Homo sapiens: one gene and its partners. The protein of the gene in region 1 interacts with the protein of each later gene in a biochemical or structural test. Each region holds a gene or a part of one and is shown on either strand. Other genes may lie near its edges.

Region 1 (3,500 bases):
CTGAGAGGGCAGGCTTGTGAAAAAGGAATCAGACAGGTTTAGATGGCCCCAAGCCCCAGTGAGGACAAGGCATAGAAGCTGTAGGGTGTGGGTCTCCTGGAGAATCTGCCCAGCATGCAAGGACCCCTGTGCCCAGCCTTCTGCATGAGCAACACTCTCCAGCCCAGCTCACCAGGCCGGGAGCAGGAGCCTGACGAGAACTGGGCCAGAGGCCTTCCCTGAGAAATTGAAATTGGCTTTCTTTTGCTCAGTCTGTCTTTCCACAGCCTGTACCACAAGCCTGAGAGGTACAAGTAGTTATCTTCTGCCCATCATTTCAGCTGAGCAGCAGAGAAAGCCAGTCTGTGCCCAGTGCTCTGGGTCCCAGCTCCCAGGTATTTGCAGGCTTAGCCATATCCCTGGCCAAAGTTTCCATGAGATAGCCTCTTCTCCCCTTGAGGCACTGGCTGCCACACTTGCTGTTACTTGCAGCCAAGAATCAAAGTGACTCGCTCCATCATTTCAAACACTCATGTTCAGCCAATACAGCAACACTCAAGGGGCAATGGCTTAAGAGAACCAGGAGCGGAACTCTCCCGGGCTACCCTGGCAGCAGCCTGAAAAAGTAGGCAACCTTCCTGATAAAGCATCTCTGAGTACTGCCTCTGAAGGGAAGAGACAGCCAGCTCCCCTGTCACCTTTCTCCCTAGCTTCTGAAAAGTCAGGCTCCAAGAGCAAGAAGGGCCAGGAACTCACCGCCCGTCATGCTAGGAAAACCACTGTCTTTGAAAAGCCCAAGTTTCTCACCACAGTTCCAAATGGTACCTGAGAACGCTTCCATTTGCCCATGTCTGGAACTGTGTGGATCTCCTTTTTTGGAATGATGAAGTTCTGAGTGGCTGGAGGGGCCTCCTCTGAAGAATCTTGACAAAAAAAAATGAAAAAACAAACAGATAAATAGAATCCTCCCCTACAACACACACACTCCCTTTCACCTTTTTTTTTTTTCTTGAGACGGAGTTTTGCTCTTGTTGCCCAGGCTGGAGTCCAGTGACACGATCTTGGCTCAATGCAACCTCCACCTCCAGGGTTCAAGCGATTCTCCTGCCTCAGTCTCCTGAGTAGCTGAGATTACAGGCACGTGCCACCACACCCAGCTAATTTTTTTTTTTTTCTTTGAGACAGAGTCTCGCTCTGTCGCCCAGGCTGGAGTGCAGTGGCGCGATCTCAGCTCACTGCAACCTCTGCCTCCCGGGTTCAAGCGATTCTCCTGCCTCAGTGTTCTGAGTAGCTGGGATTACAGACGTATGTCACCATGCCTAGCTAATTTTTGCATTTTTAGTAGAGACGGGGTTTCACCATGTTGGCCAGGCTGATCGCAAACTCCTGACCTCAGGTGATCCACCCGCCTTGGCCTCCAAAGTGTTGGGATTACAGGTATGAGCCAAAGCGCCCGGCCTCTCTCTCACTTTTAAACCAGGACTCCAACACCTGAGCCTTAGAATAAACCAGACACATACTTCCAGGACAGAGTAAGGGCTTGTTAAGCCAAACCCACAGCCTCCTGCCCTCCCTCACTCTGGGGAGGAAAGAGAAGGGCAATACTGACAATCCCTTCAATAACCATGCCCTCCCTTCCCTCTCCCCCCCAGAGCAGAACCGTTAGAAAAATAAAACCAAGTTGATGTTTCAGACATACACAGGCAATTCACAGAAGAAAAAAAAACAGGTCAGGTGCGGTGGCTCACGCCTGTAATCCCAGCACTTTGGGAGGCCAAGGCAGGCAGATCACAAGGTAAGGAGATCGAGACCATCCTGGCTAACATGGTGAAATCCCATCTCTACTAAAAAAGTACAAAAAAATTAGCCAGGCGTGGTGGCGGGCGCCTGCGGTCCCAGCTACTTGGGAGGCTGAGGCAGAAGAATGGCGTGAACCTGGGAGGCGGAGCTTGTGGTGAGCCGAGATTGCACCACTGCACTCCAACCCAGGCAACAGAGCGAGACTTCGTCTCAAAAAAAAAAAAAAAACCTAATTGCAGTAAACATTTGGAATAAATTGCCAACCTCCTGAATAAGCACGGACACGTAAATTATATGTGATTTCTCTTTCTGGATAAGGTTGGCAAATTAAAAACATCTGGCTAGGTGTGGTGGCTCATACCTAATCCCAGCAATTTGGGAGGCCAAGGCAGGCAGATCACTTGAGGCCAGGGGTTCAAGACCAGGCTGGCCAACTTGGCAAAACGCCATCTTTACAAAAAAAATTTAAAAATTAGCTGGGTGTGGTTGCATACCTGTAGTCCCAGCTACTTGGGAGGCTGAAGCAGGAGGATCACCTGAGTCCAGGAGGTGGGGGTTGCAGTGAGCTGAGATCATACCACTGCACTCCAGCCTGGACAACAGAACGAGACTCTGTCTCAATAAAAACAAAACAAGATTCCAGGAAGAGGAAACAAGAATTCTCCCGCTCTGTGGGTGGGAAGGACCTCCTAAGGGGACAATCTTTTGGAATAAAAAACTGCATATACACAATGAGTCAACAGGTCTACTTACAGGAATCTATCTTTCAGATGTGCTCACGGAAACACAAAGGTGTTTAATGCATCAAAAAAAAAAAAAAAAGCTGGGCATAGTGGCTCACACCTGTAATCTCAGCACTTTGGGAGCCCCAGGTGGGAGGATCACTTGAGTCCAGGAGTTTGACACCAACCTGGGCAACACAGCGAGACCCCATCTCTACTTTAAAAAAAAAAAAATTTTAGGCGGGGCGCGGTGGCTCATGCCTACAATCCCAGCACTTTGGGAGGCCAAAGTGGGTGGATCACACCTGAGGTCAGGAGTTGGAGATGCGCCTGACCAACATAGTGAAACCCCATTTCTACTAAAAATATAAAATTATTCAGGTGTGGTGGCGCATGCCTATAATCCCAGCTACTTGGGAGGCTGAGGAAGGAGAATTGCTTGAACCAGGAGGCAGAGGTTGCAGTGAGCCAAGATCGTGCCATCGCACTCCAGCCTAGGCAACAAGAGTGAAACTCTGACTCAAATAAAAAAATTTTTTATTAATTAGAAACAACCCAAATAGGCTGGGCGTGGTGGCTCACACCTGTAATCCCAGCACTTTGGGAGGCCAAGACAGGCAGATCACGAGATCAGGAGTTCGAAACCAGCCTGGCCAACAAGGTGAAACCCCATCTCTACTAAAAATACAAAAATTAGCCAAGTGTGGTGGCGCACACCTGTAATCCTAGCTACTCAGGAGGCTGAGGCAGGAGAATTGCCTGAACCCAGGAGGCAGAGGTTACAGTGAGCTGAGATCGTGCCATTGCGCTCCAGCTCTGGTTGACAGAGCAAGACTCCATCTCGGGGGAAAAAAAAAAAAAAGAAACAACTCAAATATCAGTTGATAAGACAATGGGTAAATAATGATATGCCCAGGTCCGGCATGGTGACTCACACCTGTAATCCCAGAACTTTGGGAGGCTGAGGTAGGTGGATCATTTGAGGTCAGGAGTTCCAGA
Region 2 (3,500 bases), on another chromosome or scaffold:
TTTTACACAGTTGCAATCCTAAACTATACATACAAATATTCCAAGTAAGGAGTTCCAAAAACCATTTGATTATAGACCAGCAAAACACACAAGACCCTATGGGGAACTCTTCCTGAGGTAAAAAAGGCTGGGAACACTTGGCTTAAGCAACAGTATTTATATACAAACTTTAGTTTCACTACTAAAAATGTTTGAAAGAAAAAAAGTCTACATACATGTTCAGAAGTAATAGCTTATAATCTTTTTTAATGCTATGGCAAGTTAGGCATTATGCAAATTACTAAAGGTTATATGCTATTAATCCATACCTGTAGCCTTTGGTTTATTATGACTGGATGAACCTTTGTCCCCAACACCTCTTGACATAAAGGCAAGTTTGGGAGGCCTCCTTTCCTGCGTCACACTCTCTGAAACAGTAAGCATGTTTTTTAAAGATAAAGGCAAATTCTTATAGAAGAGAAACAAGGAATGACAGTAACAAAATAAAAAAACCCTCTTTCCACAAAAAGGCAGAATTTTTAGTTTTACAAATGCCTTTTAAAGGCCATCAAAAGTATTGAAAAAGATAATACTATGGGGGAAAAAACCAATGCTGTATTTCAAAATGTAATTTCTATAAGAAAATACCCTCTCAAAATACAATTCAGCTAAATGCTTTAACCTCTTGAAAATTTAATCACTTGTAGTCAATTTTATTTGATCTCTTAAAACACTACAAAGAAAATCTTACTCGGTTTTTTACAGCATTTCCCAAATCAGCAGGCTTAGAACACCCCTGTGTATTATGAAGTGTTTCGAACTCAAATATTTCTTGAAGATGCTGAGATAAACAAAGATAAACAATTTCTTTACTGCACGGAACCAGAGCCTTTAATATGCTAATGTGCATTGTGAACTGCTCAGGGAGAAACAAAATAAACTTATTGATAAAAATTTTTGTGCCACTTTGCTTAGCATCTCAGATTAATATTATTTCATGAACACAGTTTGAAAAAAGCCTGGTTAGGAATATGTATCATGGTTAGGAAAGAAAGTTCTGGTTAAGAACATATATCTGTTTTTAAAAACATATATGTTAAGAATAACACAGATGTGTATACAAACACTTATACATATAAAAGAGGAAAACATAGAGAATTATGCATAGATTAAAAATACAGAAAGCCAGAGACACACAACAATAATATATTTGAAGAAAACACTCACAATTATTTCTGAAATATAGGTGTAATAAGTGTGGCAAACTTGTTTTGAATACAAAGACCACTCTAGACCTTAAAGCCCAGCAATGATCATAGAATACTCCTAAATACTGATCAAGGGAATGTAGAAGAGGCAGTGTGAAAAGTTCTTCCTTTGAAAAATTCAACAATACATCCGTGGAGTCCAACACGACACTTAGGAGTCATACCTGATAAAGCTGTGTGTCAGCAAAAACGATATCACCCACAGTGGATTTGAGGACAGAAAGAAAGAAATAGGAAAATTTTTACATTTTAAACACAAGGAAAAGACTTTTCTTAAAAAAAGAGGAAATTTACTAAATGAATTATATGTAAATACTTGGTAACTTTTTTCCATGGTTGAAAGAGGAGGGGGATGTGTTATTAAACTATATCTTAAACATCTCATAATATGATCCAATAGAATATGAAAATATTTTAATTCAAAAATTATACCAATTAACCACGATTTCGATCAAGTGATATAATAAGAGAAAAGCTATGTACTAATACTGTGGTCCCCACTTATCCACACTTTTACCTTCCACGGTATCAGTTACCCACAGTCAACCACTGTCCAAAAATATTAAATAAAAAATTGCAGAAACAGACAATTCGTAAGTTTTAAGTTGCATGCTGTTTTGAGTATTATAACGAAATCTTGCACCATCCTAATCCATAACCCCTGACGTAACCCATCCCCGTCCAGCATCTCCACACTGTGTCTACTCCCTGCCTTGTTAGTCACTTAGTAGCCACCTCAGTCATCAGATCAACTATTGCAGTATCACAGTGCTTACATTCAAGTCACCCTTATTTTACTTAATAATAGTCCTGAAGTACACGAGTAGTGATGTTGCCATATTGTTATTATTGTCTCTTCTCTGATTATTGTTTTCAATATCTTATTGTGCCTAATATATAAATTAAACTTTATCAGAGGCATGAATGTAGAGGAAAAACACAGTATACGTAGGGTTCAGTACTATCCATAGTTTCAGGTATCCACTGGGGGTCTTGGAAGTATCCCTTGATGAAAGAGGAGACCACTGTTCTTTTATGATGTTGTCATTCAGATATCTTTAAATAGCACCCATGACAGATACTTCAGAAGGAAAATCTTAGTCACTGAGAAGAGTTCCTAAATTATAGCATATAAATTTCCTAAAGAAAAACAACTCCCACTATTAACTGTAATTAACTGCATATAACATTTTTAAAGTATGTTCACATGTATACCACGATATAGATCCATTATATAGTTAGTAACCATTATAACAAATGAAGCAAGTGCTCTTCCCTTTGTTAGGCTTTGAAGGTAGCCTGGCAGGACTGGAGAGCCAACTGGATGGCCGGTGGTGACAGTTCTGCAGGTGACACTAGGGAGGAGCTCCAAAGATTAGGAATGTGAGCAGGGGGGCACTGGAGTTGGAAACTGTGGCTACCTTCTGTCAAAGGCTGTCTGAGAGGGGGTCAAATATCAGCTCTGAAGAAGAAGACATTCCATCAGAATTCTATACAGACAAAGGGGCACAAACCACCTCTAATTGCCCTCCAGCAATTACACACCAAATATTTCTTATTACTTTGTCACAACTGTGTTCATGGCCCAAAACTACTTGGGTCATGAAGCAAAGCTTTCAAAGTTAAATGAATTATAAGTGATTACCAACTCAGAAAAAGATAAATATGGGATGGAAAGCAAGGTAAGATAAATTCAGCTGGCAATTTTGTGTGATTAAAACAAACCTGATTAAAGATATTAAAAGATATAGAAGATAATTCCACCAAACAGCATGAGTAAAAATGTACAGAGCAGCCCTATTCATTCTAATCAAAAGCTGGAAACAAGCTATTCTACAGAAGAATAGAGAAACAAATTATGGTCTATTCATACAATGGAATACTACATAGCAATAAAAAAGGAACAAACTACTGATAAACAGGGCAACATGGACATTGTGTTCAGCAAAAGAAACCAAACCAAAAGTATCCATTATGTATACACAGCAAGATTGCATTTAAATGATAAAATTCACAGCTTATCCATCACTTGTTGATTTAACCAGAAAAAGAAAAATCCCTTGGAGAATCTTGAGCAGGAAATCATAACAATAAACTAGTGAACAAGTTATTGTTCAAATCAAATGAAATGTCTATGAATTTGAATGACCCAGTAAATTAAGAGAAATTGTTTAATTAATGTACCGCTTAACATCAGCAGCCACAAGAGCATAATTCAGACTCAAATGAGAATTTAACATCCACAGAAATCTT
Region 3 (3,500 bases), on another chromosome or scaffold:
GTGTGGAGAGCCAGGCTTTTGATAGAGTGTCTGCATGGCTGTCTGCACCTGCTTACTTATAGGGACTGTCAGCTTCTCAGGAAAAACCATTGGAGTAAGTACCCCCCAGTCACTCCTGCTGGGAATGGCCCTCAAGTGATTGTCCCTGGAGGGAAAGAAGCAGCAGTTGGGTTGCACTATCTCCATTCCTATGACTCCAGTTTGCTTTCCTTTTTTTTTTTTTTTTTTTTTGAGATGGAGTTTCGCTTTGTCGCCCAAGCTGGAGTGCAATGGTGAGATCTTGGCTCACTGCAAGCTCCGCCTCCCGGGTTCACGCCATTCTCTTGCCTCAGCCTCCCAAGTAGCTGGGACTACAGGCGCCCGCGATCAAGCCCGGCTGATTTTTTGTGTTTTTAGTAGAGACAGGGTTTCACCGTGTTAGCCAGGATGGTCTCGATCTCCTGACCTCGTGATCCGCCTGCATTGGCCTCCCAAAGTACTGGGATTACAGGCGTGAGCCACTGCACCCGGCCCTTTTTTTGTTTTTTTCCTGAGACAGGGTCTCATGGTGTCACCCAGGCTGGAGTACAGTGGCACAAACATAGCTCACTGCAGTCTCAAACTCCTGGGCTCAAGTGATCCTCCTGCCTCAGCCTTGCAAGTAGCTGGGACTATAGGCACGTGCCACCATGCCCTGCTAATTTTTTTATTTTTTTGTAGAGGCAGGGTCTCTATGTATTACCCAGGCTGGCCTCAAACTCCTGGGCTCAAGCAGTCCTCCCACCTCAGCCTCCCAAACTGCTGGGATTGTAGGCATGAGTCACCTCACCTGGCCTCCAGTTTGCTTTCCATGGTCATTAACCATTTGCACACTGAGGCTCTGCTCTGAGGTTAGCTGTCCAGAGTACTTAAGATAATTTAATTGCCGAAGGGAGTGTCATGTATGAATATTTGAGTCTGTGGAGTCTTAAAAATATCCAGCGACACCATAAACAGCTCATTAGCCAGCAGAACCTTTGAGTGGGTCAGAAAGAAACTTTCCCTCATCAATCTCCACATTCCCAGCTCCGTGTTGCATGTTTGACTCTGAAGCCTATATACAGGCTTGGATGGCAGTTGTGCCAAAGACCCGTACCTGGATAAGGTGAATCCGAGGTGAGCAGGTAGGGCTGCAGGTGTTAATGGCACCCTGTTTGGTTAAGCAAACAAGGTCTGTGCCCAGGAAGCTTACCTTGGAGCAGCTCCCAAGTCTTTGGACATGAAACAGGCAGTGCTGGGAAGAAGGGGATGTAGGCTGGGCACCAAAGCCAGAGCACAGCCCATGTCCTGAGGCCTTAGTCACATGGAGGGAAGAAATTATTAAGGATGGGTTAAAAGAGCTTGGACATTAATGCAGTGAGGGAGAAACGATGGACCCTCTTCTCACATTTACCTGAGCTTCCTTTTAAAGTGTTTGAAGGAGCTGGGTGCGGTGGCTCACTCCTGTAATCCCAGCTATTAGGAAGGCTGAGACAGGAAAATTACTTGAGGCCAGGAGTTCAAGACCAGCCTGAGCAACATAGTGAGACTCTGTCGGTATAAATTAAATAAATAAAATTTTTTAAAGTGTTGGAAGCATTCCACACTGTGTCCCTTATTAAAGATTTGGTGGGGGGTTCCTGGTGTAGAGCACTCCAAAATCCCTCCAATCCCCAGACTCCTTTTTATTATTATTATTATTTTGAGACAGAGTTTCGCTCTTGTTGCCCAGGCTGGAGTGCAGTGGTGCAATCTTGGCACACTGCAACCTACGCCTCCTGGGTTCAAGTGATTCTCCTGCCTCAGCCTCCCAAGTAGCTGGGATTACAGGCATGTGCCACCACACCCGGCTAATTTTTGTATTTTTATTAGAGACAGGGTTTCACCATGTTAGTCAGGCTGGTCTCAAACTCCTGACCTCAGGTGATCCACCCGCCTCAGCTTCCCAAAGTGCTGGGATTACAGGCATGAGCCACCACACCCGGCCTTATTATTTTATTTTATTTTATTTTATTTTTGAGGCAGTCTAACTCTGTCGCCCAGGCTAGAGTGCAGTGGCATGATTTCAGCTCACTGCAGCCTCCACCTGCCAGGTTCAGGCTGAGACAGGAGAATCCCGGGTAGCTGGGATGACAGGCACGCACCACCATGCCCAGCTAATTATTTATTTATTTATTTATTTATTATTATTTTCCTCAAGATGGAGCCTTGCTCTGTCGCCCAGGCTGGAGTGCAATGGTGCGATCTCGGCTCACTGCAACCTCCACCTCCTGGGTTCAAGCAATTCTCCTGCCTCAGCCTCCCGAATAGCTGGGTTTACAGGCGCGCTACCACGCCTGGCTAATTTTTTGTATTTTTAGTAGAGATGGGGTTTCACCACGTTGGCCAGGCTGGTCTCGAACTCCTGACCTCGTGATCCGCCCGCCTCAGCCTCCCAAAGTGCTGACATTACAGCCATGAGTCACCGCGCCCGGCCTATTTTATTTTATTTTTGAGGCAGAGTCTCATTCTGTCACCCAGGCTGGAGTGCAGTGGCACCGTCTCAGCTCACTGCAGCATCCGCCTCCTGAGTTCAAGCAATTCTCCTGCCTCGGCCTCCCGAGTAGCTGGGACCACAAACCCGGCTATTTATTTTTGTAGAGACAGGGTCATGCTTTGCTTCTGAGTCTGACCCTCTAGTTTTTTATTATTTGAAAGGAGAGGCCAGGTGCGATGGCTCACACCTGTAATCCCAGCACTTTGGGAGGCTAAGCAGATCACCTGAGGTCAGGAGTTCAAGACCAGCTTGGCCAACATGGTGAAACCCCATCTCTAATAAAAATACAAAAAAAAATTAGCCGGGCCTGGTGGCAGGCGCCTGTAATCCCAGCTACACAGGAGGCTGAGGCACGAGACTCACTCGAACGATTCTGGGTGACAAGAGTGAAACTCCGTCTCAAAGAAAAAAGAGAGAGAGTTTGATTTTTTTGCTTCCTAAAAGACCAAAAAAGTCCTTCATTGCCAAATCTGAGGAAAAAGGGTCAGCAGAGCAATACCATATTTATCCATTGACATAAAGTAGCGAGGCATTTTCTCATATAGACCTTTATTTTCATGTTCTGGAAGATGAGTTAGGAAGGCACAGCAATATTGTTTCTTCTTTTTTTTTTAATTTGAAACAGGGTCTCACTTTGTCACCCAGGCTGGAGTGCAGTTGCAGCCTCAACCTCCTGGGCTCAAGCAATCCTCCCATCTCAGCCTCCCAAGTAGCTGGGACTACAGGCATGCACCACCACAACCGGCTAATTTTTGTATTTTTTGGTAGAGATGAGGTTTCGCCATGTTGCCCAGGCTGGCCTCAAACTCCTGAGCTCAAGTAATCCACCCGCCTTGACCTCCCAAAGTTCTGGGATTAGAGGCATGCTCCACTGTGCTTGGCCTGGGAAGGCACAGCAATATTGAAAAAAAGGAACATTGCTTTCTAAGGTGAGTTTTAAAAAAAAAAAATGTTCAGTTGTGCACAT
Region 4 (3,500 bases), on another chromosome or scaffold:
CTCCATAGCTTGCTCATTTTTTCTAGGGCACTGAGAGCATTTTTGTACAACATATTCTTTTGAAACAGCTTATTCTTCATGTGGAAATAGGCAAAGAGAGAGAGAGAGAGAACACATTGTTTGTTATTTACTGTAGCCCTAATCCCCAGGACCTGTATCCAAGTTGTTTGATGGAATAATTTTATCTTCTGTGCTTCAGATCTGCTTGGCATTAAAGTTACGGGTCTTTGTCTCCTTTCTAGCGCTCTACTAGCCGACAGTTTGTTGATGGTCCCCCTGGACCTGTAAAGAAAACTCGTTCCATTGGCTCTGCAGTAGACCAGGTAAGAATAGTCAGGCCAAGGTAACAGAGATTACTGGCCCCAAGCATTAAAACTTCTCTGAGTCAGCATTGCAGCATTGTTTTGAGAGACATGATGTTTAGTTAAAGTTTTTGTTTGTTTTTTGAGACAGAGTTTTGTTCTTGTAGCCCAGGCTGGAGTGCAATGGCACCATCTTGGCTCACTGTAACCTCCACCTTCCAGGTTCAAGTGATTCTCTTGTCTCAGCCTCCCACGTAGCTGGGATTACAGGCGCATGCCACCACGTCTGGCTAATTTTTGTATTTTTAGTAGAGACAGGGTTTCATCATATTGGTCAGGCTGGTCTCGAACTCCTGACCAGGTGATCTACCTGCCTCAGCCTCCCAAAGTGCTGGGATTACAGGCGTGAGCCTCCGTGCCTGGCCTTTGGTTAAAGTTTTTCTATGCAGTAGGATCCTTATCCCTATGAATGGAATTACTCTGATGTAGTAAACAACTGTCAGAGTGAGTCTTAGTTGCTTGAATATATACCCCCATGACCTATGTTTATCTTCTTAGGTACGAGATTTCTTTATTTTTACTTTTTAAAGTAGAGGGGGAGTCTCTCCTTGCTGCCCAGGATGACTCGAACTGCGGGGCTCAAGTGATCTTCCCACCTTGGCCTCCCAAAATGCTGGGATTGCAGGCATGAGCCACTGCACCCAGCCAAACATCAGATTTCAACATAAGAATGTTTCAGGTCAGGCGTGGTGGCTCACGCCTGTAATCCCTGCACTTTGGGAGGCCTAGGCAGGTGGATGATCACCTGAGGTCAGGAGTTCGAGACCAGCCTGGTCAACATGGCGAAATCCCGTCTCTACTAAAAATACAAAAATCAGTCGGCCAGGCGCGGTGGCTCACGCCTGTAATCCTAGCACTTTGGGAGGCTGAGGCGGGTGGATCACGAGGTCAGGAGATTGAGACCATCCTGGCTAACACAGTGAAACCCCATCTCTACTAAAAATACAAAAAATTAGCTGGGCATGGTGGCAGACGCCTGTAGTCCCAGCTACTCGGGAGGCTGAGGCAGGAGAATGGCGTGAACCCGGGAGGTGGAGCTTGCAGTCAGCCGATATTGGGCCACTGTACTCCAGCGTGGGCGACACAGCGAGACTCCGTCTCAAAAAAAAAAAAATCAGTCAGGTGTGGTGGCGCATGCTTGTAATCCCAGCTACTCAGAAGGCTGAGGCAGGAGAATGCCTTGAACCTGGGAGGCGGAGGTTGCAGTGAGCCGAGATCACGCCACTGTTCTCCAGCCTGGGCGGTAGAGTGAAAAACTCTGTCTCAAAAAAAAAGTATCAGACTGGGGTCTTAAGTCTTGACTAAGACTAAGGAATTTTTTACCTGCTCCAAAATACCCTATAGTGGAGGGTAAGTTAGATTCTTTGTTTGTCTTTCCTCATTACTACTTTTGTTGCAGGGGAATGAATCCATAGTTGCAAAAACTACAGTGACTGTTCCCAATGATGGCGGGCCCATCGAAGCTGTGTCCACTATTGAGACTGTGCCATATTGGACCAGGAGCCGAAGGAAAACAGGTCCATTGAATTTGTGACTAAACTGGCCTGTGTAAAACAACTAGCAAAATTTTGGAGAGTTGGTTTCTTAGAACCCTCTGGAGGCGGGGATTGGATGTATTGGGTAGTTTCTTACTGCTGCATACCGAGGACCAGAGAACTGCTTGTGTCATGCTTTACCTTTGAATTGCTAGCCCACTGGCATAACTTTAGTTTTTCTTGAAACTGTTTTTTTACATAGCCATTAGTTCTCACTTTTGGCTATGATAACAGATTACTGTTTATCTCCCAGTTAAAATTGGAGCTAAAATTTAGAAGGAGCAAAATACTTAAGACACAAAGCTTAAAAGTTGCTTGTTTTCTAGGTACTTTACAACCTTGGAACAGTGACTCCACCCTGAACAGCAGGCAGCTGGAGCCAAGAACTGAGACAGACAGTGTGGGCACGCCACAGAGTAATGGAGGGATGCGCCTGCATGACTTTGTTTCTAAGACGGTAAATCTGTGATTGTTGTTTGTGTTTTAATTTTTTAATTGTGAAAGTAATAAATACCAGGAATAAAGTTAAATACTTTAGTGTTATAAAGTTAAATGTCAAATTTCCTTCCTCATTCCAATTTTACTCTCCAGAAGTAACTATTGGTTACAGAGGTAAGTTTCTTTCCATTCTGTGAGTAATACTAAATTAAAGAGACCAACTTTTCTGAAGCAATTGTTAGTACTTTTTTTTTTTTAATTTGAGACAGAGTCTTACTCTGTCACCCAGGCTGGAGTGCAGGGGTGTAATCATAGCTCACTGTAGCCTTAACCTCCCAGTCTCAAGCAATCCTCCTGCCTCAGCCTCCTGAGTAGTAGGGATACAGATGTGTGCCACCACGCCCGGCTAATTTTTAAATTTTTTGTAGAGACTTGGTCTTGCTATGTTGCTCAGGCTGGTCCTGAACTCCTGGGCTCAAGTGCTCCCCCTGCCTCAGCTCCCAAAGTCCTGGGATTACAGGCATGAGCTACTGTGCCTGGCCCATTGTTAGTACTTTTTAGTGACACATGTTTACATTTTTTCTTGAATATATCACCTAAGATTTTCAAAATGTTTTGCTTTTGTACCATTTTATTTCCTTATAAAAATCCAAGCAAATTAACTGAGGCTCAGAGGAGTTAACTGACATTTTTGAGCCACATGATAGTAAGTGACAGATTTCACATCCAGGTTTTCTTTTTTTCTTTTTTTTTCTTGAGACAGAGTCTCACTCTGTTGCCCAGGCTGGAGTGCAGTGGTGCGATTTCGGCTCACTGCAACCTCTGCCTCCCGGGTTCAAGCAATCCTCCTGCCTCAGCCTCCCGAGTAGCTGGGATTACAGGTGCCCACCACCATGCCCGGCCAATTTTTTGTACTTTTAGTAGAGATGGGGTTTCACCATGTTGGCCAGGCTGGTCTCAAACTACTGACCTCAGGTGATCCTCCCGCCTCAGCCTCCCAAAGTGCTGGGATTACAGGCGTGAGCCACCATGCCCTGCCAACATCCAAGTTTTCTGCTCTTTGTAAACAAGTTCTTTCCACTATCACACACTGCTGCCTTCCAGTGGGATGACCTTAAACAAGTTACTTAAACTCTCTTTGCTTCTGTTTCCTCATCTTAAAATG

The links.
Region 2: the proteins of PTPA (region 1) and CYLD form a complex in vitro, tested with the Homo sapiens proteins (one study listed by BioGRID).
Region 3: of the proteins of PTPA (region 1) and EIF4EBP1, one has a biochemical effect on the other in vitro, tested with the Homo sapiens proteins (one study listed by BioGRID).
Region 4: the proteins of PTPA (region 1) and RACGAP1 form a complex in vitro, tested with the Homo sapiens proteins (one study listed by BioGRID).

The regions. Positions count from the first base shown.
Region 1 is NC_000009.12:129,117,915-129,121,414, reverse strand, and holds part of PTPA (serine/threonine-protein phosphatase 2A activator), read right to left. Parts: intron 903-3,500; coding exon 805-902; intron 1-804. UniProt on the Homo sapiens protein: PPIases accelerate the folding of proteins. It catalyzes the cis-trans isomerization of proline imidic peptide bonds in oligopeptides. Acts as a regulatory subunit for serine/threonine-protein phosphatase 2A (PP2A).
Region 2 is NC_000016.10:50,773,086-50,776,585, reverse strand, and holds part of CYLD (ubiquitin carboxyl-terminal hydrolase CYLD), read right to left. Parts: intron 1,421-3,500; coding exon 1,412-1,420; intron 408-1,411; coding exon 309-407; intron 1-308. UniProt on the Homo sapiens protein: Deubiquitinase that specifically cleaves 'Lys-63'- and linear 'Met-1'-linked polyubiquitin chains and is involved in NF-kappa-B activation and TNF-alpha-induced necroptosis.
Region 3 is NC_000008.11:38,033,534-38,037,033, forward strand, and holds part of EIF4EBP1 (eukaryotic translation initiation factor 4E-binding protein 1), read left to right. Parts: intron 1-3,500. UniProt on the Homo sapiens protein: Repressor of translation initiation that regulates EIF4E activity by preventing its assembly into the eIF4F complex: hypophosphorylated form competes with EIF4G1/EIF4G3 and strongly binds to EIF4E, leading to repress translation.
Region 4 is NC_000012.12:49,997,995-50,001,494, reverse strand, and holds part of RACGAP1 (rac GTPase-activating protein 1), read left to right. Parts: intron 1-242; coding exon 243-323; intron 324-1,761; coding exon 1,762-1,879; intron 1,880-2,223; coding exon 2,224-2,354; intron 2,355-3,500.